2 separate regions of the Homo sapiens genome follow, and region 2 is linked to region 1. The links come from fine-mapping of genetic effects on gene expression. A gene starts in region 1. The other region holds a variant in brackets. All regions are shown on one strand. Distances are from middle to middle.

Evidence for each region.
Region 2: its variant is fine-mapped to the expression of ATP8B4 in monocytes (CEDAR, PIP 0.94).

What each region holds. Positions count from the first base shown.
Region 1 is chr15:50,111,524-50,127,486 of GRCh38, forward strand. ATP8B4 (ATPase phospholipid transporting 8B4 (putative)) reads right to left here and starts at 7,710. Exons shown (of 28, transcript NM_024837.4): 1 at 7,600-7,710. RefSeq lists an enhancer at 4,914-5,427.
Region 2 is chr15:50,057,812-50,073,774 of GRCh38, forward strand. The region is part of intron 3 of ATP8B4 (ATPase phospholipid transporting 8B4 (putative)); the gene reads right to left. Among named protein-coding and RNA genes, the nearest start is that of ATP8B4, 53 kb to the right of the region's middle. RefSeq lists a silencer at 461-755. The variant GA/G (reference allele first, on the strand shown) is at 8,192.

The DNA of each region.
Region 1 (15,963 bases):
TGGCCATAGTAAACTCACCAAAAGCCATCCAAGAGAACAGCCCTCGGAGCTGTTCGGGGGGATGGGGAAGCAGGACATGGTAGAAGCCTGTCCTTTGGGGCCACACGCCCTGTTCTTGGATTCCTGCTTTTTCTACTAACTCATTACAGAATCTGGGGCAAATAAGCTCTGTAAACCTCAGAGCCAACCTGGGTGGGTCGTGGGGACAGGGCACATAATGAGAGTGTACATTTGATATTAGTTATCTTAAAGGCAGACCATTGATGTCTCTTTGTCAACATTTCTGCATAAACATTAGGAACAAATGAGGACAGCGAGTGTAACTCCTTTAAGACATTCTGCAATAAAAGAAAGGAGATAATGGCTGGGCGGGGTGGCTCATGCCTGTAATCCCAACACTTTGGGAGGCTGAAGTGGGAGGATTGTTTGAATCCAGAAGTTCTAGACCAGCCTGAGCAAATTGTGAGACCTGGTCTCTATAAAAATAAATAAATAAATGGACATAAGGGTGAACAGGTGATGGGACTTAAAGAGAAGCTCTGTTTGCAGTGAGGAGCTAGAGGGCATGTGGTAAACTGAGGGGTTGGGGCCAGTGGAAAGAGAAAGATTGAAAATATGAAGTAGAGTGACAGAAAAGCAAAGGAATTAGAGGAGATTGGAAAAAGGGAAAAGGAAGGAGCCAGGGCAGTTGAGGAAGAGACAGGAACAGTGCAGGCCAGGAAAAAGCACAGGCAGAGCCTTGGCAGCCCCCCTTGCTGGCCCAGAGACCTGCCCAGGCGAGCCCCTCCCTGTCTGTCTCCTATCTGAGAGCCTAGGGAGTAACTGAAGTGTCCCCACCAGGGTGGGGATCTTCTACTTCCTTTGGGTGTGGGTGCTCTCCAGTTCTCTGAAGACTCAGGAAAAAGCAGGCCAAGGAGGAAGGGACCCAATATGGAACATGCCCAAGCCCAGACTCAATATCTAACGTGCCCAACCCCAGATCTCCTTCTATGCTCCTTTCTCTGTTCCGTTCGGCTTGCCTCCTCTCCTCTTTGGAGGCAGAGTGTTACACAGGAGAGACTTTTAGAATAGCAAGGTTCAAGTCCCAGTTCAGTGGCTTTCTATCTAGCATTACTTTGAGCAAGTCATGTACCCTGCCTGAGACTCAATCTCCACATCTGTAAAGTGGAGATGGGAATGCCTTCCTCCAAGCTGTGTGAGGTTAAGTACACAGGTAAGAACAGTTCACTCCATAAAAGTGTGTTCCCTCCATCTCATTTCCACCTCCCCAGTCTACTTTTTCTCCTCTTACTCCATCTCCTTCTCTCCCAGTTTCCTTTCCGTTTCCCTAACATTTTTTCACAATTCTCAACAAGGCCCCTGCTTCCCATCCCAACCCACCATCTCTCTGAGGACTAACCCAACCAAGCGTGGAGAGGAAGAGGCTCCCTGTGAGGGCTGCACCAGTGTGGTCTTGAGCAGGAGCTGGGTCTTAGGATGTCAAGCAAGGATGACAGGAGGAAGGAACAAGCCCTTCTCTCCTCCAGCTGCCCAGCCCTTCCCCCTTCCTCCCTCTGGCCCTAGGTTCCCAGAGCCTGAAGAGCAAAGCCTCAGAGAGTCCTCCCACCCTGGGACCCATGTAGGGGTGACCTTGCTGTCCCACAGGCATCCCTGCCTGCCAACCCAAAATATTACCTGCAGCCCCAGTGCTGGCCCCCTGAGGAGCAGGTAGGATTGGGGAACTGAAACTCAGCCATGAGACCCCAGAGATGGGCGATCCAGATGAAGCAGAGTAATCTCAGCCTTGGGAGCTGAGACAGCGAGAGAAAAAGGAACAAGCCCAGGCTTCTGTCCTGCATGTGTGCAGTTTTGAGTGTGAGGGTGAGGGTGGGAGCTAAAGATAATTCTATTTGGTATCAGTGACAGCTGCCAATAGCCACAGTGCTTGTAGATTGTAGGAACTGTACAAAAGTAGAAGTAAAAAAAAAATTAAGCCAATCTGTGTATGTGTGTATGTGTGTACGTATGGGTGTGTGTAAAAGCCAAATTTATAAGGCCAGGAGCGGTGGCTCACACCTGTAATCCCAGCACTTTGGGAGGCCGAGGTGGGTGGATCACCTGAGGTCAGGAGTTCGAGACCAGCCTGACCAACATGGAAAAACTCCGTCTTTACTAAAAATACAAAAATTAGCTGGGCGTGGTGGCACATGCCTGTAATCCCAGCTACTCAGGAGGCTGAGGCAGGAGAATCACTTGAGCCCGGGAGGCAGAGGTTGCGGTGAGCTGAGATCATGCCATTGCACTCCAGCCCGGGCAACAACACGAAACTCCATCTCAAAAAAAAAAAAAAAAAAAAAAAAAAAGCCAAATTTATAAATGGCTTGCAACTACAGGTATATGCAATTACCGTGCCTCAACAATAAATTATTGTTATATTTACTGTATAACATACAGCAGGTTAATTGTTGTGAGTTGTCATGTCCATACAGGAGTCTCTTTATATTCTAGTCATGCAGCCATTACCCAGCCACAACATTTCAAAGCTTCTCTTCGTCCTCTCACATATCCCCTGTTCATTTTCCTTCTTGGTCTCCTAGTTTCTTTTTTTTTTTTTTTTTTTTTTTTTAATTTTCATAGACTATTGGGAAACAGTTTGGTTACATGAGTAAGTTCTTTAGTGGTGATCTGTGAGATTTTGGTGCACCCATCACATGAGTAGTATACACTGCACCCAATTTGTAGTCCTTTATTCCTCACTCCCTTCCTACCCTTTCCCCCTGAGTCCATAAAGTCCACTGTGCCATTCTTATGCCTTTGCATCCTCATAGCTTAGCTCCCACTTATAAGTGAGAACATACGATGTTTGGTTTTCCATTCCTGAGTTACTTCAATCAAAACTTCAGGCAACATTGGAAGTACTTACAGAAATGCATTCTAGTTTCCTTTTCTCCTTCCCTTCTCTTCCTTTCCTAGTCTGCTCTTGCTGGTCTCTTTCTCATTTTCCCCTCCTTGTCCTCATCCTGTCCCTCTTCTCTCAACCCTGCTTTGGCCATCTTCCTTCCTCTTCTCACTTCCCTATTGCTCCACCAGTGCTGGCGTTAGGCCGCCCAAGTTTGCTCCTGTTAACCCTAGAATCTCAAGCAAGTTCCCCTCCCTTCTAAGCTCCAGTTTTCTCCTCTGTGGACAATCAGAGTAACTCATAGGATCACTAGGAAAACTAAACCAAGCCATCTCCATAAAGAAATTAGCTCAATGCCTGCTGCCACAAAGTTAGTACTCAATAAGGGAAAGCGATGATTATTTTTATTTTTCTTAAAATGTATTTTTTTAACTCTCCACATGGAAAAAACCTCCTACCAAATTTGAGAACCATGTCCTCCCTCTACTGACATTCAATTATCAAAGACTTATCAGGTGCCTACTCTATAGCTAACATGGGCTGGGCATGAGGGAGGCAAAAATTCATTTCCAGTCTTTCAAAAGCCCACAGTCTGGGGAAGATGAGAGCAGACAGAAACATAAAAGACCATTCGAATCGTGAGTGTAGGCCAGACACAGTAGCTCACACCTGTAATCCCAACACTTTGGGAGGCCAAGGTGGGCAGATGCCCTCTATCTCCTCACTTGAGTCCAGGAGTTTGAGACCAGTCTGGGAAACATGGCGAAACCCTGTCTTTACAAAAAATTAGCCAGGCATGGTGGCTCATGCCTCCAGTCCCACTGCTTGGGAGGCTAAAGTGGGAGGACCACTTGAGCCCAGAAGCTCAAGGCTGCAGTGAGCTGTGATTGTGCCACTTCACTCCAGCCTGGGTGACACAGAAGACCCTGTCTCAAAATAAATAAATAAATAAAAATTTTAAAAAAGGATGATGAGTGCAGGGCTATGGTAGAAGGAGGGATGGAGAACTATGGAGGCAGAGGAAAGGCAGTCACCAAGCCTGCTTTGCAGAGTCAGCGAAGACCTCACAGATGGCAATTCTGAGTTGAGTCCTTTTAAAAGGAAAAGAAGAGCTTGCTAAATAAAACAAGGTAAGGACAAGTCAAAGGAACAGCGTGAGGAAAGGCCAAGTGTTGTGAAAGGGAAGGAAGGTTTGCGGAGCAGTGATAGTCATGGCAAGCAGATCATACAGGCATAGGAAGAATGTGCAGTGATATGGGGCTGGCAAGGCAGGTAAGAGCTGGATTCTGAAAGACAGGATCATCTTCATCATTGTCCTCATTGTCACTGCCATTCACTGGGGACTTGGCCTTGTGCTAAGAACTTGACACGTGTTGTCTTATTCAGTCCTCACCAAAACTCTACGAGCAGGAATTACCGTTATCCCCATTTTATAGATAAGGTGACAGAGAGCATTGCCATGGTCAAGATCCTGTGGTTGCTCCTGCAGGTTGCGGGGAGACAGAAGAGGTATCTAAGTAGAATGGCACAATTAGAATTCAGCCCTCTTTTCCATTATCCTTGTTCCCTTTTGTCTCTCTGTGCCAGTCCAGGCTGTCAGGGATTTTAGGAAGGTTAATCTCACAGTTTGGGCTGGCACAAGAGGAGATGGAGGAGCAATGACAACTGGCAAATGGGGCTGAATTCTAGAAATGTTTCCATAGTTAAATATGCAGTCTATAAATGATCTGTATGGGCCAGACATGGTGGCTCATGCCCGTAATTCCAGCACTTTGGAAGGCCGAGGCAGATGGATTGCTTGAGCCCAGGAGTTAGAGACCAGCCTGGGCAACATAGTGAGACCCTGTCTGTTCAAGTAAAATAAAATAAAATAAATGGTCTGTGTGTTTGGATGCAGAACAAGGAGGAATCTGGGGTGACTTCCAGGTTTTTGCCTTGGGACACTGAGGGAATAGAGGTGCCACTATGATGATAAATACAGCAGTGAAGGGAAAAGGAGGAGAAGGTGGAGGGGCAGAAGAAGGAATTGGGATGAAAAAATAATGTATTTAGTTTGAACATGTGGGCTTAAAATGCCTCTTGATCATTGAAAACATCCTCACAGCACTAAAGACAAAAAGACAGATTTGTAGACTTGGAATCATCAACATATAAGGAAGGAGTGAAGTCAAGGGGGAATGAATGACCTCACCCAGAAAGGACAAGAACAAAGAGAGGTGAGGAAAGGACAGAGGACGAGGAACAAGGACAGAGCTCTAGAGGGCGCTCAACTTCAAAAGAAAGGTCAGTGAAGGATCCATTGAAATGAAATGCTGTGGCCCTCCCTCTGTGACCTTTTCCCCTAGGCATCTAGTACAGTGCCCGGCACTGGGTAGGTACTCAAACTCCAGTTGAGTAAATAAAAGGAGAGAGAAAAGCAAGGTAGCTTTAAAGTAAGGAAGGAACATGTTTCCAAAAACATAATGATCAATAATATTTAATATTTAATTAGAATTTATTAATATTTGAAATATATAATGTTGCTAGGAGGTTACTATTTTTTAATATCTTTTCATGAGAGATTCTAAAAATAAATACTTGTTTCTAATTCTTACTCATGCTATACAAGAATTTAGATTACACACATTAAGTTTTGTTTTTTATTTTTTATTTATTTATTTTTTTGTGGAGACAGAGTCTCGCTCTGTCACCCAGGCTGGAGTGTAGTGGCCTGATCTCGGCTCACTGCAACCTCCACCACACGGTTCAGGCGATTCTCCTGCCTCAGCCTCCTGAGTAGTTGAGATTACAGGAGCCCACCACCATGCCTGGTAAATTTTTGTATTTTTAGTAGAGAGGGCGTTTCATCATGTTGGCCAGGGTAGTCTCGAACTCCTGACCTCAAGTAATCCACTTGCCTCAGCCTCCCAAAGTGCTGGGATTACAGGCATGAGCCACTGCATCTGGCCAAACATACATTAAGTTTAATTTCAATGACAGCTACAATTTCCAATTTACTTTTAGATGGTTAGTTAACTCTTTTCCTACTAAATGAAAATATTCAATATGCCACATATGAAAAAAATAAAATTCTCCCACCCACAAAAAAATCCTCCAGGGGCACAAAAAAAATCATTTGTTCCCTCATTTTTAAATATTTCTGCATGATGAGACAATATAAAGGCACAATATAGGTTAAAATAAATCACTCTGTGGTTTCTCAAAAAAAGTGAAAACAGATCCACCATATGATCCAGCAATCCCACTTCTGGGAATACATCCAAAAGAAAGGAAATAAGTACCTTGAAGAGATATCTGTACTCCCCTGTTTATTGCAGCACTATTCACAATAGCCAAGATATGGAAGCAATAATATTTCTTCTTGAGGAATAAAATTTTTAAATGTGGTATTTATATACAATGGAATATTATTCAGCCATGAAAAAGAATAAAACTCTATCATTTGCAGCAACATGGATGGAACTGGAGGATATTATGTTAAGCAAAATAAGCCAGGCACAGAAAGACAAATATCACATATCCTCTGTCATATGTGGGAGCTAAAAAAGTTGATCTCATGAAGGTAGAGAGGGAGAATGGTGGTTACCAGAGGTTAGGAAGGGGAAGAGGAAGAAGGGGGTGAAGGTAGGCTGGTTAATGGGTACAAACATACAGTCAGATAGAAGGAACAGGTTCTAGTATTTGATAACACGGTAGTATGACAATAGATAATGATAATTTATTTTTTATTTATAATAAACGATATAGATATAAACGATAAAATAAACGATATAGATAATGATAATTTATTGTATCTCAAAATAGCTAGCAGATTTGGAATGTTCCCAACACAAAGAAATGGTAAATGTTTGAGGTGATATATATGCTAATTACACATCGTATGCATATACCAAAATATCACATGTACCCCATAAATATGTGCAGTTATTACATATCACATAAAAAATAAAAAATACATTTAAAAAAATCAAAACTGAAATCACTCTGAGTTTACATTTTGTAGTAAAGGCCAGCATGGAGCAACAGCTGAGTAAAAGGGGATACTTCATGGGCACAGGTGTTGGTAATCCCACAAGAAAACCTGTGTTTCCTCATTTACTTTCTAACAAGACTTCAGCTTCCAATTAATGTTTTTCACCAGTTTTCTTTTCTTCAAAACAGCTAATTGTTAACCAGGGACCTGAGACACTCTCTTGCCTATAAACAAAACAACTAGAAGGATACCTTTTTCTGTTCAGACAAATTTTAGCACTAAAAACATAACCCTCAAACCTCAGAGGGATAGCTCAGTGCAAACTGTTCATGTCTAAAGCATAAATTGACCATAAACAATATATTGAATAGGTGCACTGTATACAAACCCCGTGAAAAAAATAAAACCAACTACTACCAAAGGAAGTGACAAAGACCTACAAACCAAGAAGAAATGTACCTTTATGCTACTATCATTGGTCATTTAATAGGCATGCTAACAGAGTAAAAAATAGACATTTCAAACAACAAAAAAGAAAATGTCACATCTCCCATTTCCAACTAACTCCCCCAAATTTATTTTTTAGCAAAAGGGGAATAATAAAGAATATTTGTGAAACCTTAGTCACCAAGATGAAAACAGCAAAACAAAATAGGGATCTGGAGAAAAGAAACAGATCGTTCCAACCAGCCCACAGCTAAATTTCCACTTCATCTCACTAACCATTGAATGCTACCCATCTACTCACCTCAACCCAGACTTAATCCTCTCCCCCAAAAGGAAGATTTCTCAGCAGTGCAGGAAGATCAAACAGGTATCCATTCCGTGACCATGCCAAGGAGAAAAGCAAGGCTACTCTGAAAGCTTGAGGGATGATACAGAAAACAAACTGGGTCTCTAGGGGGCATTCTCAAAAACCTGAGATCAACTCCTGGAAAAACACTCTTGACCACTTACCACCACCGGAAGCTGCTAGATGGCAATCAGAATCAGCATCTCATCAGAAGAAGAGGAAGACCTTACAAGAAAGCAGCTTCACTGTCAGTGAGGAATTGAGGGAGAAAAGCACTCCTTGGAAAAATGCTGAAAGCCCTGAAGAGCCTCTCCTCCCCTAGTTGCCTGCTCCTGCTGACAGGACAGAACTGGTTAATCTTGGGGAAACAAAAGGAAACTCCCAAGAGGCTGGCTTCTGAGGATGGCTTCCTCTGTGGGAATCAAGAATTCAGGAGGATGAAAATGAACAATGGAAGGGGACACCGGCTACCAGGCCTACTTACCAAACTTTTACCAGCCCTTGACTGAGGAAGATAAGCAAATCTGTTTGCAGTTCCCACCTGCTTTTGCAGAGATGAAAGAATCAGCAGTGGGTTTTTGTCACTTTTTTTTTTTTTTTTTTTTTTTTTTTACAGGGGAAGTTCAGCTCTCTTATGGATGAAAGCTAAGCATACTCAAGTGACATTTAGTAGGCAAAGCAATGACACTTCTTTCCCAACATCCTTAATTTCAGCACAGAGGATGCAAACATTAACCCTGATGGTACCAAAGAACAAATGCACATAGGAAATGGATTTACATCTTTTAGTTTGGAATTGCTTTTAAGGGGATTCTGGTTGTTAAAGCGGGATTAGATGAAAATAAAATATTTTGGTGCATATCTATTTTTAAAAGGAAAAATATGGCTTCTTTTAAATATGCCTAAAGCCATCTAGGAATTTTCCAGAAGTTGCATCAGATTTGCCAGTTAAGTACTGAAATCAAATAGATTTTAATCATGTCTCTATAACCAGAGCAAGCTAATCCCCTGCGCACCATCAACTCCACTCTCCTGGAACATCCTCACGCTGGGCCCTCAGGTTTTCACAGAAACAAGGGCCTTTTCCTACCAAGGTTCCACAGTAACAAGAAACTACAGATTTCTGGAAATAAGAGAGATGGCTTTCTTTCTTACATGATAAAAGAGGACCAAGAACAGCTTAGAGCAGGAAGCAATCATCTCTTTAAAATATTTAAAATAAAAAACACTTTTAAGTGAAAAACATTTTTAAGTATCACCTCTATACCATTTTTAAACCTATCATATGGGGCAAATATAAGTTTGGTAATTCCCTTTGTTAAAGAAGATATAAGGAAATCAGGGCCTTTTCCTTTTCCTATACTGTTAGTGGGAATATAAATTGGTAAAATATTTTTTAAAGGAAACTGAGTATAGTAGTGCCTATCAAGTATTGAAATGTGTATGTGTTTTTATTTCTTAGGAATTTACCTTATAGAAAACCACACACACGTGCAAACATATCTCTAAATATGTTAATTATAGCACTATGATAGCAACAACAAAAAAACACCTAAAAATGGCTTACATATAAGAGACTGCCTAAATAAGTTAAGGTATATTGATACAAAAGAGTACTATGTAGCCATTCAAAAGAGGGTAGAATTGGAGTAAGGAATCAGGTCATCTGAGTTTAGTTCTGTCTCCACCAGTGACTGGCCAGGTGACTATGCAAGCTCCTACACTTATCTGGGCCATCTGTAAAAAGATGATCATTATAGAACTTACCTCATAGGATTGTTGCAACTAAAACAGTGCCTGGAGCAAAGTAGAGACTCAATAAATTTAGCTATTATAAATAAGAGATAGGCCTCTTCAGACTGACATAGAAAAAGATGTCCAAGATGTACTGTCAAGTGAAAAGATCAAGTTGCAGAAGAATTGTGTATAAGATAATCTCATTTTTAAAAAATATTTTAAATGTGCTCGCTGTTTATTGTCTCCCTCCCACTAAAATAAAAGCTCCTTGAGAGCAGGGACTTTTGTTTACTGTTGAACTCCTGGTGTCCATAATAAGCACTCATGAATAATGAATAATGTCGAATGAATAATGATAACAGCAAGGCTCAGCAAGAAGAATAGGTGAATTCACAGAGACAGAAAGAGTAGAGGCTACCAAGGGCTGCAGGAAGAGAGTATGGGAAGGTATTGTTTAATGGGTACAGGGTTTCAGATTGGGATGATGGAAAAGTCCTGGAGATGGATAATGGTGATAGTTATACAACACTGTGAATGTACTTAAAGCCACTGAACTGTACACTTAAAGGTAGTTAAAATGATAAATGTCATGTTATGTATACCTAGCACAACTTTTTCAAAAATTTCTACTTTTTCTTCATAAGGAGTAGAAAGACGGGGAACAGAGAAGGATGTCCATCTTATAGAGGACTATTACTAGTGTGACTGCAAACCCTTGCTAATCAGAAAACAGTTTAAATTCTCGATTTAGGATACAAGAAAAAAAAAACCTTTTATTCCCATTATACAAAGGTAGCTAAACAGAGCTTAAACTTTCATCCCTATTAGGCAGTATGTGCACTGTCAGAACGCCAGGTCTGTGTTTTCAAGAGGCCTTATTTTGTTTTAAAGCCTTACTTTTGACAAACGTCCTTTATGTCTGTAGTCTAGAGTTTTCAAAGTGCTTTCTCAAGGATCATCTCAACTTGTCCTGACAAAAATCTCGTGATCATATTAAAGGAATTTTAATTAAGTATCTGAGCATTTGAGAGAAAAAAAGAATTCTGAATTTACTCACTCTTTTACCTTGTTCTCCAACTTTACACACATTTCATCAAAACGAAGAGATGGAAATTTTTATTCTTAAGAATCTGAAACCACACAACTATAAGTCTAATATACAACGGAATAAATAGCATCTTATGTTTCTTAGAACCTGTAAATATCTCTTGCCTAACTGCCAAGATAGCTAAGAAAGCCAATGAATTATGGTTTTAGATAAACAGATTAACTACCTGTAACAAGTGGGATGGCCTGGCCTATAGTTTGAAATCTACAGTTGGAAGAAATTGATCTAACATATTTTCATTCAACAAATGCAAATACTCTGCTAGACACTTTGTGGGACATAGAAAAGATGAACAAAATATGATTCCTGCTCCTGTGATGCTTATCAGCTGCTGGAAGGAATCAGATGTGCAGATGAGGAGATTCTGCAATTTAAGTCTCTGACATTGAGAATGGGATTGACAAATAGTAGATTTAGTCACTTTATGTCAATTCAATTTAATAACAATAAAATAAATTAAGATTTAATTGATTACCTGGAATTTAGTCATAACAGAAGTTTTAGGTTTTGTTGTGTTTGTCTGTTTGTTTGCTTGCTTGCTTTTAAGGCCAACAAGGGAAGATTGAGTTGATTGAAATGTCAAACCAAGTCCTTGGTGTCAGCCTAAACAGCAGAGAAGTAGCTCTGGCCTAAAATTGCAATTTGGGAATATGCACTAAATAATGAAAGAAAATCAGAACAAAGTATTTCATAATTCTATAAGCATATTCTTGAACTATCCACCTGCTCCAAGCAGACTAGAAGCCCACTTGAATCTCCTAAAGTCTACACTGGAGTCTACACTGCAAACCTACTCACTAAAGAATGAGAATTGCTGAAGTGTAAATCATAGAACATTGTGTAAATTACTCACCCACCTTAAGCCTTAACTTCCTGGTTGCAAAATTGGGAAGATTAAAACCTTCTTCTCAAGCTGTTTGTGAAGATTAAATGAGATATTCATTAAATAAATAACAAATGGATAAAAGTATGCATTCATATGAAAATTGTATATGCAGTGATAGAATAAGAATAAATAGCACACAACCCAGCACCTGTCACATAAGCCATTGTCTAACAAAGGTCAGTATCTTCTTTACTATCTCTCCAGAATCCAAATGCGACTACATTTTCTTTATCAGAACAGATAGGAGACTGAAGCCACCTTTGCAAAAATTATAACAGTGAGAAGATTATGACAGTGAAAGACATCTGACCTAACTGACTCCATCTTGCTTCTAACCTCCAAGCTGTCCTTGTCATTCCTGGGCATAGGCTGAACTAACTTTGGGAAAAATTTAGTTTATAGTTTAACTTTGCAACAAAGATGGTAACAGCCCTTCCCCAAACAAACCCCCTTCTTACCTAGGGACCAGTCTGCCTTTGTAGGACTAACAAATTAGCTACAGGATTAAAAATTATGGCTTAGGAGTCATGCAGCCAGAGGCTGCAAGATTCTGAACCTCCCCATATTGCTCCTGAATGGTTTACAGAATTAACCAGGAACAGAAGACAGCAAGGAAAACCCAGTTCAACCTCCTGTGATTTCATCTTCAACTCGACCAATCAGCATTCCCCACTTTCTGACCCCCTACCCACAAAATTATCCTTAAAAACCCCAATCCCCAAATTTTCAGGGAGACTGATTTGAGTAATAATAAAACTCCTGTCTCCCATACAGCTGCCTCTGTGTAAATTAAACTCTTTCTCTGTTGCAATTCCCCTGTCTTAATAAATTGGCTCTGTCCAGGCAGCAGGCAATGAGAACCCACTGGGCAGTTATGAGACCTTTGAATTCTGAGCTACTCCACATCTCCAGTTTTTTTCATCCTGATCCAACCATCTGTCTTCTCCTCTCTCTAGGGCAGTATTCCCCAAGCATATCCTTTCCATACACCATAAAACAGCATAAACAGACATTTTAAAGGGATGATATCAATAAAGATAATTCAAAGTTTTAGTATTTTCTTCCTGCACCCCAGAGCAGTTATTCAGAACCTCCTTACCTCAGCAGGTGACAGGAGTACAGTACACTAATAATGTTCCTGGGCCACCACGCCCCCTTCTCTCTAGTGATTGAAACCAATTTGCCTCCCATTCAAAAACAGATCCAACAAGTCTTTGAAGTAACATATGCCCTCATAGCCTTTAATATCTAAAAAGAAAGTATAGTTTTCTAACCTCTTGTAGTTTCATTTATTATCTGGCACTTTCCACTGTGTATTGGGCCGAAGTTCACCAAGAGAAGGTAACTCAACTCCTCCCCCACCCCAATTTCCCCACCAATTACTTAACCTTTTATGAAATAAAGGAGGTTTCTTTACATTGGCCAACATAAACGACTGACCCATTGTTGGTAGTGCCCTTTCCTGTGTGGGATTTTCCATCCTCCATGAAAAGACTCACAATTAAGTTTTACTTATTACTCAACTAACTCATGAAAAGAACAAAAAGAGAATAAGAGAATGCAAACAAGAAGTTAGAAGTTAAGCCACAGATAGAGACCCGGATTTAGAAGTAGAGGACTTTTCTACTCTACTAATAAAATTTCAGGAATTAAACTTAAAGTAATATAAATCCACCACTACATTACAATTAAGCTGGTAAGATTTTTAAAAAGAAAAAAAAAGATACCTAAATTTATGGGTGCTAAATGTCACCTCTGGGAACCAGCTCCTGACAGTGATCTGGACTTTCCCTCAAGGGCTCTCCTGAATATCCCTTTCAGTGCAGACACTCAGACACAAGCAAGAACAATAGATCCTACAGGGCTTGTTGTTATGCAAGCCCACTCACCAAAACCAGGTGATTTGCATTTAATTTGCCCTTTCAAATACTATCTGAACCATGTGTTCCAGAACTAGATGACCCAGCTTTAAACCAGACAGCCTAACACCAAGCCAGACTATTGGCAACTCTAGTTGTAAAAGTCATTCTAACAATTCATTTCCAAGTGATGAATGCTCCACAGCCAAAACTGGATCCTGGAATAGGCTGTTGGCATCAGCAAGAGAAACACTCCCTAAAATAATGTATCTCTTGCTATCAGGGGAGTATAGTATCTTCTTTGCACATAATGGGTATCCAGTAAAGACTTTTGGCCTCCGCTTTTTTATAGACTGACATCATAAGAAGTCCTTCCAACAATCAGGGCATTTACAAGAAAGGAGTAGTAGAACAATGAACCCGATCTGGATCAGTTTCAGGGCTACATGGTTCTTGTTATCTCAGAATCTCCAAGACCCAAGGAGCAGCCAGACACTTAGGGTCTTTTAACACTCACTCCAGCCCCATTTTCTCCTTAGCAAACTGTCATCCCAATGAGAAGAGACGCTCTGCTCTTCATCTCTTTACCCTTTTAGTCTGTCCTCCAGGTCACTGGGTGTGAAAATTTCCTACCCCTTATATGACACTTGGGAAGTGTAGGGTCCAAGATCAAAGGAGTTCAGGCTCTTAATCAGGACATGTCTCTGGGACATTTCACACATTCTTCACCATTTTCCAAGCCCCAATTCTGTATCAACCCCTCTGCAAGGCATTGGGGACCCCAAGGTAACTGAGACCTGGTCTCTGTGAGAACAGAAAAATAGCTCAGAGCAGTCTGCACTACGGGAGGTTCGAAAAATTTATCAGGCCCAAAAAGACAGGAGTCTAAGATTTCAGTCATGTGACCCCCAAACCCATCTGTGGGGGCAATTGTTTAAAGGCATTTTGTTCCTGACTACCTGCCTCACCTATTATCTTCATGTTCCTGGAATTTTAATACAAAGAAACAACATATAGCCAATCAATAACTTATGTTATTTTTAATGTAAATTCTTGGTAAACAACTTAGAAACTGCCTCTTCTTTTCTTTAAAAACCTGCTTGTAACTGCTGCTACAGCTTGTAACTGCAGAAAACTGAATCTATGCTCCCAGGTTGCAATCCTCAAGCTTGGCCCAAATAAACCCTCTAGTTATATCTATTTTGCCTGGGATTCTTTCTTTTAGGTCGATATCTGCCCTAACAAGAATCCTTCTAGTGGAAGAGAAAATAGTTGTGAACAAATTGTGACACAATGTGATAGTAACTCTAATTTAGGTGTCCCTTGTCCAAACAGGCTTCGGAACTACAGGAGAGGGGAAGCCATATTTCAGTGTGGGTGTGGAGGTGTCACGGGAAACCCTCAGAACAAGTGAAGCTGAGTCCTGAAAGATGAGTAGATGAGTTAGGGAGGGTCTTGTTAGTTCCTAACAAGCTAACAGTCCAAAAAAAAAAAAAAAACACTTCACTAATACTGTCAGAGGCGTCCAAGGCCTTTGAACCAGAGCAACTCCATCTTACATTCCCAGAAGATTAGTCATTCTTAGACACAGTTTCAGTTAAGGGAACAGGTTAATAATGTTTACTGAACAGACCCAGGAAATGTCCCGATGACCTGATATTGTTACTGGAAAGGGATCCCAATCCAGATCCCAAGAGAAGGTTCCTGGACCTTGTGCAAGAAAGATTTCCATTTGGTGGAGGTCCGAGTTTCTGAAAAGTAAACTCAGGGTCATATGTCAAGATGTTATCTTTAGCTTCTGTAGAGAACCAAACATCTTATGACTATAACTTCTTTAGCTATTATTTTAAGCTACTATTACTCTCTTACTTATCAAGTTGCTCATTTAATTCTCAGGACTAGCTAGGTGCCTGGAATTTCCATTGAAGAAACGCAAGATTTTCCTTTATTTCCATGCTTGGTGGAGGGTGGCAGGCAATCTGATAAGCAAGGAGGTAATAATAGCTTGAAACAATAGCCAAAGAAGTTAGAGTCCCAATAGAAACTAAAAATAACATCTTAACATATGTCCCTGAGCTGTTTTGCAGAAACCTGCCCACAGCCCCCACACCCCCCCGCCACCAAATGGAAAACACCATCCACTGGCACAACAGACCTTGGGGAAGGGGGAACTGGAGACTGAAATCTGACCACTGTTCTTCATTCTAAATTTCTTCCTGAGGGGCCTGGCAGAAGTTATACCTACAGGCCAGAGTTCAACATTCCTTTCTGCTGACCCCAAGTTTTTAAACAAATCTTAACCAATCGCAGATCGGGAAATCTTTGAATCTACCTGTAACCTGTGGACCCCCACTTCAAGATGTCTCCCCCTTTTTAGGTCAAACCAATAGCCTCCATGTATTGATTTATGGCTCTGCCTGGAACCTCTGCCTCCCTGCCTTTAAAAACTCTTACATGGAAGCCATCAAGGGGTTTGGGTTTTAAGATTAGCTGCCCAATTCTCCTTGCATAGCACCCTGCAATAAATGCTTCACTTTTCCTCACTGCAAATCAATCCCAGTGTTAGTATTTGGCTTTGCTGCATGGGCAGGCAGATTAACTGACCCATGTTCAGTTCAGTAACAATGGCCTTCCTCTACTGTGACTTGGGCTTCCATTCTAAATGGCTTGAGTGAGTCACAAACATACATCCCACAGCAATCGTGAATGTGGAGAGCAAAGGTGAGTTT
Region 2 (15,963 bases), 54 kb before region 1:
TTTATCTACAAAGAACTAATTTTGGATAATTATCAGGGGAACAAATTAAATTTCCCTCTGAGATTAATTTAATCACACTAATTTTTTTTTCTCCAGGGTGTTTAGACGTATATAACATTTTAAGTAGTTGCAGTAAAATGTTTACTTTCTTTTTGTGACATCTAAAAAGGGACTGAAAATACAGACAGAAAGAGAGAGAGAGAGAAAAAGACCTAGCATATGCCTTCTCCAGAGAGATAAGAAGAAGGCATACAAAAGAGCAAAAGAAAAGAAAGCAAAGATTGTATTTCAGTGGGACTTTCCTGGGGCATCCCTAATGATCTGTTTGCCTCCTATCTCTGCTGGCTAGAGCTCATCTATGCCTCCTCCTTTTAAATCAACTGGGGATCTAGGGAGTCAGCCCTCAGCTTTGGCCCACGAATTCGTCTTATCCTGAGCTTTAGGGATCTTGTATGATCAGAGTGGGCATTTCTTTGAGTTGAGGTGGGGGCTGGCTTGTTCAAGCCCATTTCCTGAACTACAACTTTGGACAACTTAGTGCAGATGGACTGCTTTGTTTATTTGGTCTGAAAATTAGACCATGTTCACACTGCTGTGTAGTCTGGGAACTAGGCCAAATTTCAAGACCTCAGTGTTTACAACAATAAGAAAGACACAATGGAAAAGTCCAGTTAACGTGGAAAGGCACCCATAAAGAATTTTCCAAAGGGCCAAAGAGTTATAATAGCACACGATACACAGTCTAATCCTTCCTAGCACTCTACTTCTTATACTAGAGTTCTACATAAATAACACCACCTCAGGGGTAGCCATGCAATTTTCTCCTGAACCTCTAAGGATCAGATGGAAAGTACATGCAGTTGTCAGCACCCTCTGCCATGCCCAGGGGGTACTGGAGCAACTGGGACCCTGATCCACTCATGAAGGTGTTCTCCTGCAACAGTCCTAGCCTTTCCTGGTCTCCAGCCCCTTCACAGCCAGGTTGGGGAGTAAATCTATATTCAAACAAACCCACAACACCTGGCTTTGTGGTTTTTTTTTTGTTGAGTGGCTTTTGTTTGGGAGTAGAGGTGTTGAGAGGGAGAGAATAGAAGACCAGGAAATACAGAAGGAAAATTCTCCACATGGGGCAGGTAGGGGAGGGCAGGGAAAAAAAAAAGAGTTTTAAAGCATCTTCTATCATTAAAACACATCAATAATAATTTATGAATAAAGTGCCAATCTTTAATTTTTGTGATTATATCATGCACAACGGGTTTGAGGAATTTTCACCAAATTTGAGGTTATGCTTGAGATAGTCTGAGTTAAATAAAGACTATCATAAATTTGCTTTGGGGGACTGACAATGGAGTTCCCTGATTACATATACAAAAATAGGCATTTGCCTTCTGTAGGAGCCAACAAGGAGATTCAATAAGAAGCCCATGTGGATGCTGAGCAGAGCAAGAGCTGCACGGTGAGAAGATGCACAGCGAGTCTCCAATCAAAACTCACTAGGCCAGATCCTCTAAGTCACTGAACTGATTTGCAACTGAGCCACTTCTACGGGAACAATTCTAAGTACCAGGCTTCAGGTCAAATAACAGTGTGACTTAGTTGTTTAATAGTTAATGATCCACCAGAGCATCACTAGGAAGGCCAGCTAGGAATAACTGTTAACGTACAAAACTGTGAAATAAAGCAAACTAGATCCTTTCCCCTGTTCCTTGAATGAATGAATGAATGAACAAATGAATGAATGAATCAAGGGCTCTGGCTGCAGTTCCTGAACCTCCTCCACCATCTCATTTCACTGCCTTCATAATCCTCTTCCCTAGTGCATTCCTCATCCATGTTCCTTTTCCCGATTCACTCCATCTGGCATAAGGGTTAGAAAACAAAGTTCATCCAGACACTTATGCAAGTGTGTCAGTTATTCAGGAGGAAGAAGCCAGAGAAGTCAGAGGGTTTGGAGGAACAAAATCAGGAGGCTTGTCAGAGGAATAGACAACTGTGCCCAGTATCCCTCCCTCTGAGGGTGACCAGGGGTGCTATCAATGAGACAAGGGACTTGAAGGGCTGGAGGAGGCAAAACCTAGGGGTCTGTGGCCTGAGCCCTTTTTTAGAAACTGGTTTTCCCCAAATGGTTAATATTTCTTGGTATATAACTCCACAAGATGTCAAGCCTGCTTTAGATATTCTCTTCCCACAATTGTCATTTCCAGTACTGTAAAATGAGTTGCCTATACCCTCAGTAAGGAAACTGAAACCCAGAAAGGCTAAAAGGCACTTGCCTCGGCCGAGCCAGAGCCATGACCCACAGCGTCCCCTGGGTTTCTAGGAAATTTTCTGATTCCAGAACTAAAGAAAAGCTGCCACTAGGAAGGAAGGAGGGCAGGCAGACATGCCGTACTGAAGGGAACTACTTATGTGACAAGACAGATCACCTCAAGCCTTAAACTTAATACACGCAGGTTAAGAACAAAGACCTTCCTCACAAACCTGGTTTCAGGAAAGCTTCAAGAACTTCTTGAAGACATTTTTCCCAAAAAATCTACTCATATTCACCACAACGAAACAACAATCCAATTAAATAATACTTGAGTGAGTGCAATTTTCCCAAGAGATATTTAGAAAAAAGTGAGGGCTTAGAGTCCTGAATCTGAAAAGTGATTCCATGTTTTATCAACTAAGTGACCTTTCTCTTAATTCCTCCAATCCTTCATTTCCCCCATGTAAATTTGCATGGGAATACCTGCCATGCAGAGTTGTTGTGAAGATTAAATGAGATAATACATGTAAAGTGCTTAGCATTGTGCTTGACAATTAAATACTTTCCCCGCCCCGCCCCCACCACCACCTCTTTGCTTTTGCCAAAATCTTCCAGGCACTACTAACTAAAATAAGAGAGAATCAGTTCAGAACTTCTGAAACTCAAATATGTATATGAATCATTTCGGTTTTTGTTAAAATGCAGTGATACACCTGGAGTTTTGTGGTGGGGCCCGAGAGTCTGCATTTCTAACAAGCTCCAGGTGAGGCCAATGATGCTGGTCTGTCTGTGGACCACACTTCAAGAAGCAGAGTATTAAAGAGCTCTAAGAGTTTTGATAGGCACAAATTGCTGTGATATAGGAAAGGTTGCATGCAGCTTTTTCAAAAGTTGATATAAGTTAAATTAGTACAAATCCAAGGGAGTCCCATTTGTGCACTAGAGACTATGAACTTTAGGAGGTACTGGATTCCCCCAGTAGGTCGTGGAGTTGAATCAATGTCACAGATGAAACACTGAAATGCCTTACTCCGAGATTTAGGCTAGAAGTACAATGTGCCCTTTTGACTCAGCTGAAGATATTTTTCTGGACTTCGTTTTCAATCCTTTAAGAGAAGTATATTGGATAAAAAAAAAATCAGTGAAAAATCAGATTTTTTTCCCTCCACTTTCAATTTAAGCTCTGGCAAATAAAAAGATCAGATCAAGCATCAAATTGGAAAATAAAGGAATCATGGAGGAAATTCCACAGGAATGTGGAAGCAAGAAGGAGCATAACAGGCTGAGGAAAAGGAATAGGGATCAAAGATATTCTTATTTTTAAAAAATGTACATCCCAAAGTACACAGGCATCATTTCCACAGGCAATAGCATATAGGCCCTGAACGGTTTCAGGAATTTAGTAATAACTATTTGTTGATAAAACATAAATTCATAACTATTCCAATGTCAAAATATCTGATTGATTTTAATAAGCCTATATAAAACTCACATTTGAATTAAAGAAACAAAAAAAATTAACTGCTTTTCATATTTAAAGCATTCAATTCCAGTATACCCTGGAAGTACTTTTCAGTGAGCTCATCATCTTCAGTCAGTTTAGGTTTAGATCTACTTAACATGTGACTGGCACTTGGCTTTTTGAGTAGCCAAATGGTTCCCCAAATCCAGACAGGGATTCAAAGTATAGTGCAAGTTGGGAAGTTTTCAAGCCAAGTCAGGTCATTTTTACACTACATAAATGAAACATGGTATTTTACCATTCTTTCATTCTCTTTGAAAGACATTACCAATATGAACAACTTTAAGAAAAGAAATGCATTTATCTCTTCCTAGAAAATTATCTTCCTTACTCAGATACAGTGAAAATGTTTATTATAAGCTAACACTATTCATTTTCATACTTAACTTTGTAATGTCTAATACTGTTATTTCATTTATGCATGTGAAATAATCTCAAAATTCCAAGAGTTCCTGAAGGGCTGAGACCTTATACGTTTTTAAGTGTCTAGAGCATTTAACAAAGTGATAAGCAAGAATTACTCAATACGTGTGATATAGTTTGGATGTGTGTCCCCACCCAAGTCTCATATTGAAATGTAATCTCCAGTGTTGGAGGTGGGGCCTAGTGGGAGGTGATTGGATCATGAGGGCAGTTTCTAAGGGATGGCTTATCACCATCCCCCTTGGTACTGTCCTTACAATAGTGAGTTCTAGTGAGATCTTGTCATTTAGAAGTGTATGTCACCTTCCCACTCACTCTCTTGCTCCTGCTTTCACCATGTGATGTGCCTGGTCCCCCTTCACCTTCTACTATGTTTGGAGGCTTCCTGAAGCCTCCCCAGAAGCAGATGCTGCTATGCTTCCTGTACAGCCTTGTAGAACTGAGCCAATTAATCCTCTTTTCTTATAAATTACCCAGTCTCAGGTACTTCTTTATGGCAATGCAAGAACAGTCCAAGACAACATGGCTGATAAACCCAATTGGAAAAAATACAAAATAATATATGAGAGGAAGACAATTCCACTTATGAGAAAATAACATGAGCTAATATAATTTTTCATAATTAATGATGCATCACAATAATTTTCAGTACATAACCTATAGAACTTCTTTTGCCAGAGAAAGATAGGCATTAGCACAAATATAGATTTTTCACATTATTTAGCACAACATGCAGTTTATTAATTTTCTCATATCAGAGTACAAGGGAGAAAAAAAATCAAATATTCCTTTAGCTCATTTTCTCACCTAGAAAAGCATTTCTTTTTCTGCAAAGCATTGCAAAGAAGTTCAGCTCATTTGTGCTTCTAACCTCAAAATCGTCTTTCTTAGGACAATGGCGTTTTTGTGGTATTGAATCTACAAGAGTCTTTGAAATATCACACATGGTACTAAGTGGTTTGCAAGAATCATAGGAATATGACTTGGGGAGGAATCTTCAAAGTTCAGTTATTCATTCTATCCTTCTGCTTCCATACATGTAGAAATAATCTAAACCAGCACTATAATAGATGTCTTTAAAAAAAAAAAAAGCCTTTCTGCTTATTAAGACAGAGAGCAATATTACTACATAATTAAACAAAAATTGGGCTGCCAGCAAAGACAGTTCATTATAGAAATTGGAACTAGCTAAGTAAACAAAATGTAATGATTAATGGCCCAACAGCAACCTATAGGGAGGTCTCTAGTGATAAGACGCATGGCCATGTTCTTCATTGTGTTGTGCTCAGTATTTTTATTATTAACTTAGATCAGTGATTAATCCAGGTTGCCCATTAGAATCACTAGGGGAGCTTTAAAAAAAAAAATGCCTGGACTCCACCCCTAAAGCTTCTGATTTCATTGGCCCATTTGTTTAACTATCAATGACAATACAGAGAGATGCTAAAGTCCACATAGATACAATAATAAAAGGAATAGTTTAATGACAGAGTAAGTGCCTATTATGTGCCAACAAGCCCTATGACAAGCAAGATATGGAGATAAATGTGACACGGTTCTTGTCATTAACAATAAAAATAAAATTAATATGAGATTAATAGACTCAACAGTCACTGAAAAGATAGTACAGTCTTAGACTGTATTAATAATCTTTCTCTACTTCAAGATGGTCAAATAAATTCTAGACTATTGTGTTTGACTTTGGAGGAACCCACTTGAAGAAGTTATAGAAAAACTGAGGCTCTTTGAAAAGAAAAGGAATAGCAGGTGATTTTCCTGGAGATCTGTTTATTTGATGAATTTGTGTTTGATATTTTAAACACAAATATCTGAAGTGTTGTTGCATGAAACAGAAGACATGTTTGCTCTGCTTTGGTCTCTGAAGAAAAGCTAAAACAATGGAAAATAAAGCAAGAGAATATCAATTTGGCTCAATTGATGGAAAAATTACCTAATGATTAAAACTACCCAAAGAAAGAAAAGGCTGTTTGGGGAGGTAATGAGGTCCCCTCTTCTAAAGGGATAAAAGCACAGACAGGACATGGAGTTGGTTAGAATTCTGTAAAGAGAGTTGAATGGAAAAGCTTTAAAGGATAATTCCACACTGAGATTCCACAGTGTATTGTACTGAAGCTAATTTCCTTGCAGTACCTAAGAAATCAGGTTTTTCCTTTTGTATAAAAAAAGCCCTTCTTCCCTAAACTTTTGGACAATTGGTACACAATGATGTCACCATCTATAACTTACCTAGATGACACCTGAACAGCCACATCTGTAATGATGTGAACTGACAACCAAGGAGGACACATAAAACCCAGTACAATCAGGACTGCTAGAGACACCAAGTCAAGGGTATCAGGAGCTAGAGATTTAGATCAACAGTCTTGGCATGTGACTCTGATTGCTGTCCTCTGCTTAATTCCTCTGAGAACAGTCTCTCATTATTCAAGCAAAAACATCCTTACAAAACTGTATACACTTCCTCACAACTACAACACTACCTCCGTGCACACAGTCATGCAATAGACACAGATTTATTGACAAATATATAGCCCAAGTCTTGGATCATTTTTAAAGAATTTTCAAGTTTAATGCCTAAGTAGCTTACTTTTGTAATAAACCTGCAAATTGTATACTTGATGTATTAGTCTATTCTCATGCTACTATAACAAAATACCTGAGACTGGTAATTTATAAAGACAAGAGGTTTAATTAGCTCATGGTTCTGCAGGCTGTACACAAAGCATAGAGGCTTCTGCTTCTGAGGAAGCCTTAAGAAACTTGCAATCATGGCAGAAGGCAAAGGGGAAGCAGGCACATCTTACACGGTTGAAGCAGGAGCAAAAGGGAGAGGGAGGAGGTGCTACACACTTTTAAACAACCAGATCTCAGGATAACTCACTGTCACTATCATGAGAACAACACCGAGGGGATGGTGCTAACCCACTCATAAGAACTTCACCCTCATAATCCAGTCACCTTCTACTATGCCCCACCTCCAACACTAGCGATGACAATTCGACATGAGATTTGGTGGGAACACAGATCCAAATCATATCATTTGATAATTGCTATGAGAGTAGATTTTAAGTGTTCTCATCATAAAAAAATGATAAGTTATGTGAGATAAGGCATATGTAAATCAGGTCGATTTAGCCATTTTGTAATTTATACATATTTCAAAACATTATGTTGTGTACTATAAATATATACAATTTTTATTTGTCAAAAAAAAGAAACTACATAGAAAATCAGGTGTAAAATGTGACAGTAATCTGGTACTAGTTTCATAATAGTGGACATGAAGTTAAGATCACCTTGGTACATAAATGATTTGATCTTTCAACAACAAAATGTAAAACATGATTGTTACCATCTTTTAACAATAAGATTCCCAGAACCAGACCATTTGGTCCAGTAAAGAAGATTGCAAAACAAGATAAAAACCACTTTGAGACCGTTGGGGTTAGTGGTTTTTTTCCGTTAACCTCTCAATTGTTACTAAACTTGCCCAATTTCATCCACACAGTTGATTTATGGATTATTTTCATGAACCATTTGCCAACAAAGGAAACTCCATTTATAGTTCCTTCTTCACAAGTAACTTACTCTTCTTTCTATGTAATCTTTTCATTTCTCAATCTTAAATTTATTCCATTACAGCCAAGCTATAACAGAGCAAAATTCTGCCATCAAAAATTGCTTATTTTAACTCTTGTAATTCCAATTACATATTGCTTGCATACTTTTCAGTTTTGTACCATTGCAGTGAAGAAAGTAAAAATAAAAATAAATAAATAAGCCAAATCTGTTTTTTTAACTTAAAATTTACTTCTCAAAGCAGATGGAATGGGAACTAGTTTATGAGGATGCTGAAATTATCTCAAGCCTGGAACAGGTAAATAACAAACAAATACCTCAGAGAACTTACCTAGATTCTTTAATTACTTTAATATGCCATTTTAGAACATTTAGGAATAGAAATTCAGAGGCCA[GA/G]AAAAAAAAAAAAAAGATTAAAACAGGCAAACTAAATTAGGGAAACAAGAAACCAGACGAATGCTTAGCCAAAGAATAACACTATTTAAACAAATCAGATGTCAAAAAGATAAAAAATATTTATGTTTTTATACTCTTGAATCCAGAAAGAAAATGAATTTGAGAGATATCCAAAAAATATATTTTCTCCTACAAGTAAATTATTTATAAAGAAAAAAATTAAAACCTTTGCCATGTCAAACTTAGAATAACATACACAGATATTAACAGCACACAAAACAGAAGCCATTTTCAATGTTTGCTAAAAAGCCACTGTTACTATGGTGATGCCCCAATACAAAAAAGCAACAACTAACAACCAGAAACCCATAACAAATGCAAGTTACTGGTGCTTTCCATGACTAATTCCAACGTGTCACACTGCTTGTCATCATCTGTACTCTTTAGTTGGTGCATCTGGTCATCAGCCCCATAGGTGAGGATCTGCATCATGTGGGCAGTACAGCTATGCTGCTCAAGAAGAATAGAGACCCAAATGTCCCATCAGTCCGGGGATGTGTTTCAACATGGTGACATCCCAAGAGTCTCCCAAAGAAAATATTTACGGAGTTTTACCTTTCCATGGATTTTAAACACATACTTAAAAAGCCAAAATATGTGAAAAGATTGATTTAAAAATGGTTGACCAAATTTCAGTCAGCCTGAAAGCTTTTATACTGTTTCTCTTCTCTTTATTGCAAGCTATTAATTGAATTAGCTCTACCCCACCCCCTCTTTCTTTTTTTTACAGTTTGTGGGGTTTTTTTCTGCCCTCCGACTTTTAAACCTCAACTTTCTTAAAAAATTAAAACGGCTTTCTTCAGGTCCTCCAGTTACTTCCTTCTATTAAAGATGTTTTCCCTTAGTTCTTAACCTCATAGGCACCTACCATTAGACCAGTTCACCACTCCCTCTTTCCTGAGACGTTCCCTTCCTTAACACTTTCCTACACTGTCCTCTCTTCGTTCACTTCAATCCTTGCTGTCCTCTGTTCCTTCTTAAGTTCTTTCCCTCCCACTCTCTAACAAACTGAGTTTCCACCCCATACCTCACATTTAGCAAGTTCCATCACTGCTTAACAAGCCTCACTTCTCTCCTAGCTCAAAGTTTCTCCTTCCAGCCGATATTCCTAAATCTACAGCTCCCACCACACCCAACTTACGTTCTGTGTTAACCTGGCCATTTCCGTTTGGGGATTTGGCCTATTTTATATGGAGGGCAAATAAAATCCCTTTTCACTTTGTGATTCCCCAGCTCCTGACAGCCAATTACCTCATGTTTAAACTCTCTTTTTAAATAGTCTGTTCTCACCTACCCAAACCATAATTCCTCATGACATACTGTCACTTCTCTTAGCCTGTAGTCTAAGGTCTGACTACAGGCTTTTGCTCCTGTCTCTCCTTGCTAACAGTGGTGGTACAAATAAACAAGGCAGGAATCATTTCCCACTTCCTCTGGCAAAACTTCCTCAAACACTTTCGTGTACTTTGAGCTCTCCTTTCCCTAGCATTTACAGGCCACATCACAAAATTAGAATTTCACAGCACCTTTTCATTCTTACCTATTATTAGTTTCATTCTAGTGTGCTGGGCTTCTCTTCCTGAGTAGACTATATCTGCTCCTTGAAGGTAGAAAGCAGAATTTGTACCCCCTTTCTTAATAGCTCCAGTAGCACTCAACACACTGCTAGTCTAAGCAGGCACGTCCTGTAGCATGCACTTTGGGGCCCACCTAAACATATTCTGCCTACACTAGCTTCTTCATGTATTGTTATCCCTTTGAGCTTTATATGCTTTTTGTACATTGCCGCAAATACTGTTTGGAAAATAAATGAGGAAAAGGCAACAAACATACATGTTGCTAGGTATAGAGCAGGTATGTTGTGAATATTAAATTCTGAAAATTATTTTTATTTCTATTAAAGAAAAGGGGACAATGAATGGTCTATGCACCCCACACACAGGAACATGAAATTTTCCTGTTAAGCCAGTCTTTTCTCAGAGAAACACAGATACATTATTATGATGTGGGCCTAAAGAGGCCCAGTGACCATCTCGGCTCACACACTGAGAATGATGGTGAACCATATTTTTCTACTCTACTCTCAACCACTTAGATTCTGAGTTAAGAGGAGAGAGAAGTTTGCTGACTGTGGAAACGTACAAAGTCCTATTTAAATGGGCGGGAGGGAAATAAAAGGAGTTCATGTTGCAGGGAGCCTTAGTGGTGTGATTGTAGCACTGACTGCTGGGGGTTGGAGGTACTCAACCACATTGTTGCACTGAATGAACACTTTGGAAAATCCAAATGGGCATTGTTTTACCAACCACAAAAAATCATGGGAGCAGCAAATAGATTTCATCCAATAACTAGGATATCAACAAGGCATTTGCAGATTCTAGGAATAAACTACAGCATTAGAATCATAATTTTTAGGTGGGACTCTTTCTTTCTAAGCATGTAAAACTACTGGTTAAATCTTCATCAATTTACATAAGCCTATGCACTTCCTAAATGGGATCAATAACTCCACTCAGGAAAAAAATCCTTTAAAAACTGCCTACCTACCTTTGTGCATTAAATATATTCAGATAAAATTTATTAAGTGTTTTGGCTTTACTGAAGTTTCTGAGTTTGAGGCAGGGTAAGTTTCTCATCACTCAAATAAGTTAATCTCCCTTCTCAAATTCTGTTAAAGTTCAAGAGAATTGAATGGGGATAGATCATGCCTGGGCCTATGTGACAGAGAGTGAGAGAAGAAGAACCAACGAGAACCAGTGCTTTCCATCATCATCTTTTTGAACTTTTAAACAAAATCAGAAAATAGCTATAATTAAGCTAACACTTTTTCTGATCTTTTAACATTAATACATTTTAATACAACTTCAACTGTTTTCACCACTTCTACCATTCACTCTGAAATCCTTTTAACAGGAATGAGTCTGGCTGTTTGGCTCACTCACAATTTTTCTTTTAACAATTATTAACATTAACATATTTTAAAACAACTGTTTTCTACTTCTATTATTCATTCCTATTATTAACCAAGAAAACATTGAACTCCCTTCTAATGAGAATAATTCTTCTAGCACTTGGCTCACTTTCCCTCCACTCTTCAATCCCATTTTGTCTTACACATTTTGGCAGTCTAAATCCCTCTTGTAATTTGACGTTTTTACCTTCCAGTTCTCACAATATCATGTCTAATTTACAAACTAATTTGACTTAGAATCATTAACCTTATCTTTTATGTTCTAAACCTTTATTTCTCAAAAGTGCTTTTGATCATTTTTAAACCTGTGCGATGTCCTATAATGTGATTTGCAGCTTTAGAGTTTGTTGATAAATGAAGGTTCTCGAGGTATTGAAGTATCTTCTGCCAGCCTTCCAGGAAAAAAGTTTGTCTGATCGGGCATAATGTTTCTGGAAATCACACAATTTATCAGAGCTATCTGTAAATTTTTCTCCTAAATTCTTACCTATAAAAGCCCAGGGTAATATTTAAGGCCACTCTTAGCCTCAGATTGTAAAATTGTGTATCTCCTTTATCTACTTTTGTCTTTAGAATATAAGAACTTTACCAGTGGTTATATGAGGAAAGGCAAAGTGATTAGGGTTTGTTTTGTTGTTGTTGTTTGGTTGGTTGATTGTTTTTTTGTTTTATTTGTATTTTGTTTGTTTTCCAAGAATGCTCAAAAGAGCCACATGACATCATGAAAAAAAATATAGGTTTTAGAATCTGGCCAGTCTGCACTAGAATTCCAGCTTTGTTACCTTTTAGTTGCATGACTTAGACAAGTTACTAAATGGAGCCCCATCTTCATCTCAGCAAGTTTTGTGGAAGCCTGAAATACGTTCAAAGCACCTGGTACACAGTTGGGTTCAAGCTGTATGGATATGAGCTATTATCTGTGTGACCCTGAGCAAGTCACTTAAGTGAGATCTCAATGGCTTAACATTTCCATATATTAAAAAAGGTAATAAAAAAGTAAGAAATAAGAGTATTTCGTGGACTAGTTATAAGATTAAATAAGTTTAATATAGTACAGTGCTTAGAACCATGCCTTTCATATGGTGAGCCCTACCTGTTTTAAGCTATCATTATCACTATCTTTATTAATTATTATTAGCACTCTCCCTGGGATATGCTGAAGTCTCTCCAAATTCATTTCCATCTGGAGTGATATTCTTTAAAGCTGGGCAAGACTGAGCAAAAGACACCAGGATGCTGCCTTTCTTAAAAGGATATTCCGTTTAGGGGTTAAAAAAAAAAAGCTTAAAATCAGATAGGCATAGGTTCAAATCCCAGCTCTACTTAGACTAGCTCATAGGGTTGTTGTATTTTACTCTACTTTACTCCTTACAATAACTGTATTAAATAGGTACTTTGATTATCCCCAACATATAGCAGAATAGACTGAGGCTGAGAGAGGCTCCACAGTTCACTGCATGGCCAGGCATCCTTTTGGGTGTTCCCAAACCAAGGCAACACCACCTAGGTGTAGTTGGGGGTCCCATGCTCCTAAGAGCATGGCAGGTGCTCATTTTCTCTGAGCCACAATGGAAGTCCTTTAATCTGGGATATCTGTGCCCCTCTCTGCTCTGTAGTTTTCTTTCTCCACTTTTGCTGTCATTCTTGGTTTTGCCAACCCATAGTGGAATTTGATTTTATCTTGGTTTTTTGTGTTGTGTTTTGTTTTGTTTTGTTTGTTTTTTGACATGGAGTCTCACTCTGTAACCCAGGCTGGACTGCAGTGGCACAATCTTGGCTCACTGCAACCTCCGCCTTCCAGGTTCAAGCAATTCTTCTGCCTCAGCCTCTTGTGTAGCTGGACTACACACGCCCCGCACCACCACACCTGGCTAATTTTTGTATTTTTAGTATAGACAGGGTTTCACCATATTGGCCAGGCTGGTCTCAAACTCCTGACCTCGTGATCCACCCACCTCGGACTCCCAAAGTTCTGGGATTACAGGCATGAATCACCATGCCCAGCCCATCTTGGTATGTTTTAACTCAGAGATGGAGCTACCTTGTTCAATCTGCTGTAGCCACAGGATATTCCTCTACTGCCTTGTGATTGTTAGGAAACCCAACAGAAGAGCCACAGCCACACATGTGCGTGCTTTTGTTCAATATCATGAAAACTCAAGAGAAAATCATGTCTATATCATTAGCATTTTATGACTTTTAAAAGAAAGAAAGATCTGAAGCAATGGCAAATTGTTAACATCTATTCAATATGGGTGGTAGGCAAATGGTATGTTGTTATTCCCCGTGCTTCTCTGTGAGTCTGCAATATTCCATTAATTAAGCAAAAATAATTGTAAATTGAAAAGAGCGTATCACTTTACAAGGCACAAACGAAATAAGGCTTTCCTTATAGGGTTACTACTCACAGAAGGAAAATACTTGTTGCATATTGGAAAACAAGTAAACGCAGCCAAGTACTTAAATGCATAATTACCCCATAGCAGATTAGTTATTGCTGGGTATTTTTCTCAAGGTCTTAAATATACATGTATCTAGCTCTCTGATTTGGGACTTGATGGTCAAGCCTTTCAGAGGTCATTCTCCACAGTTAAAGGACTGGCTATAGAATGGATGAAAAGGCATGGGGCCAAGTCTGGTGTTCACCAGGAGAAGCTGAATGACCATATGTCAGGAGGCCATACAGAGTGACATTTGTCACCTTGGGGAATTATAGCCCCTCCCTCTCCCAGGCTAAGAAGCATGTTGATCAGCCTCCTGAGAGGGATTTCTTGTCTCAAGAGCAGACTTACTTTAACCAAGCTTACAAGACTGATGAATAAAATCAGAATGCCAGTATATTGTTCTACAATGAGAAATCTGTCATGGAGGTGGCATACTGAATTCCTACAGGGAAACCTACATTGAAAATCAAATTATAATCACAAGTTTGCATGACTAGCACAGCACGAAAAAAGAGAAATTTAAGCTACCTCTCCTAAATATTAATAAATATTAATAAATATTAATATTAATTAATTAATAATTGATTAATAATTAATCAAGCTATAATAGCCCAATGCATTCATCTCCATATATGGGAAAGATCTGCCAATAGGAACAACACACAAAAAACTCCACTGACCAAAATTCTCTCTCCTCTAGTTGGTACCTAATGGACACTGCCAAAGTTTGCCCCTGGGACTCTCATATTTCTATGCTTTAATAGCCATCAAACCCCTCTTTGAATTGAGACTTTCTTTCATTAAATGTGCTGGTAAACTCAATCATACAACAGGTCTTATAGGCCACATATCACCTACAGAAACTACTCTACCAGTTTTCTATCTTAGAGCTTATAAAAGATTCCAGGTAGCAACTTACACAGAGTCATAGAAGAATAAGATCTTTATGAAGGCCCATGATGTAATTCATGAAGTTGTTCACCACTGTAGCTTACAACAGTGCCAGTCACTTAGTAGACATTCCATAAATATTCCTTACATCAATGAAAAAAATCCTCACTTAAACTGTTCAGTACAAGCCTAAAGCCCACACATGTAATCATTCTGTAAATACAATCATTCAGGACCTGGGAACTTTATCTTTTGTTTTTTTTTCCTTTCGAGATGGAGTCTCCCTCTGTCACCCAGGCTGGAGTGAGTGCAATGGTGCGATCTTGGCTCACTGCAACCTCCACCTCCTGGGTTCAAGCGGTTCTCCTGCCTCAGCCTCCCGAGTAGCTGGGACTACAGGCGCCCACCATCATGCCTAACTTTTGTATTTTTAATAGAGACAGGGTTTCACCATATTGGCCAGGCTGGTCTCGAACCCCTGACCTTGTGATCTGCCCACCTTGGCCTCCCAAACTAGTGTTGGGACTACAGGCATGAGTCACTGTGCCCGGCCTCTCTCTCTCTCTCTCTCTCTCTCTCTCTCTCTCTCTCTCTCTCTCTCTCTCTCTCTCTATATATATATATATATATATATATATATATATATATATACACACACACACACACACACACACACACACACACTATACATATACGCATATATATATGTGTGTGTGTATATATATGTGTGTGTGTGTTTTTAACTTCTGGGACACGTGCAGAATGTGCAGGTTTGTTACATAGGTATACACGTGCCATGGTGGTTTGCTGCACCCATCAGCCCGTCATCTACATTAGGTATTTCTCCTAATGCTATCCCTCCCCTAGCTCCCTAGGCCCTGACAGGCTCTGCTGTGTGATGTTCCTCTCCCTGAGTCCATGTATTCTCATTGTTCGACTCCCACTTAAGAGTGACAACATGCAGTGTTTGGTTTTCTGTTCCTGTGTTAGTTTGCTGAGAATGATGGTTTCCAACTTCATCCACATCCTTGCAAAGGACATGAACTCATTCTTTTTTATAGGTGCATAGCATTCCATGGTGTATATGTGCCACATTTTCTTTATCCAGTCTATGCCCAAATCATGGGCATTTAGGTTGGTTCCAGGTCCTTGCTATTGAGAACAGTGTTGCAATAAACATACATGTGCATGTGTCTTTATAGTAAAATTATTTATAATCCTTTGGGTATATACCCAGTAATGGGATTGCTGGGTCAAATAGTATTTCTGGTTCTAGATCCCTGAGGAATTGCCACACTGTCTTCCAGAATGGTGGGAGTGGAACTTTATCTTACATATATTTTTCCACATTCAGCCTGAGTTGCTTAGAGAAAATCCCTCAAATGCCATTCATCAACCACTAGCT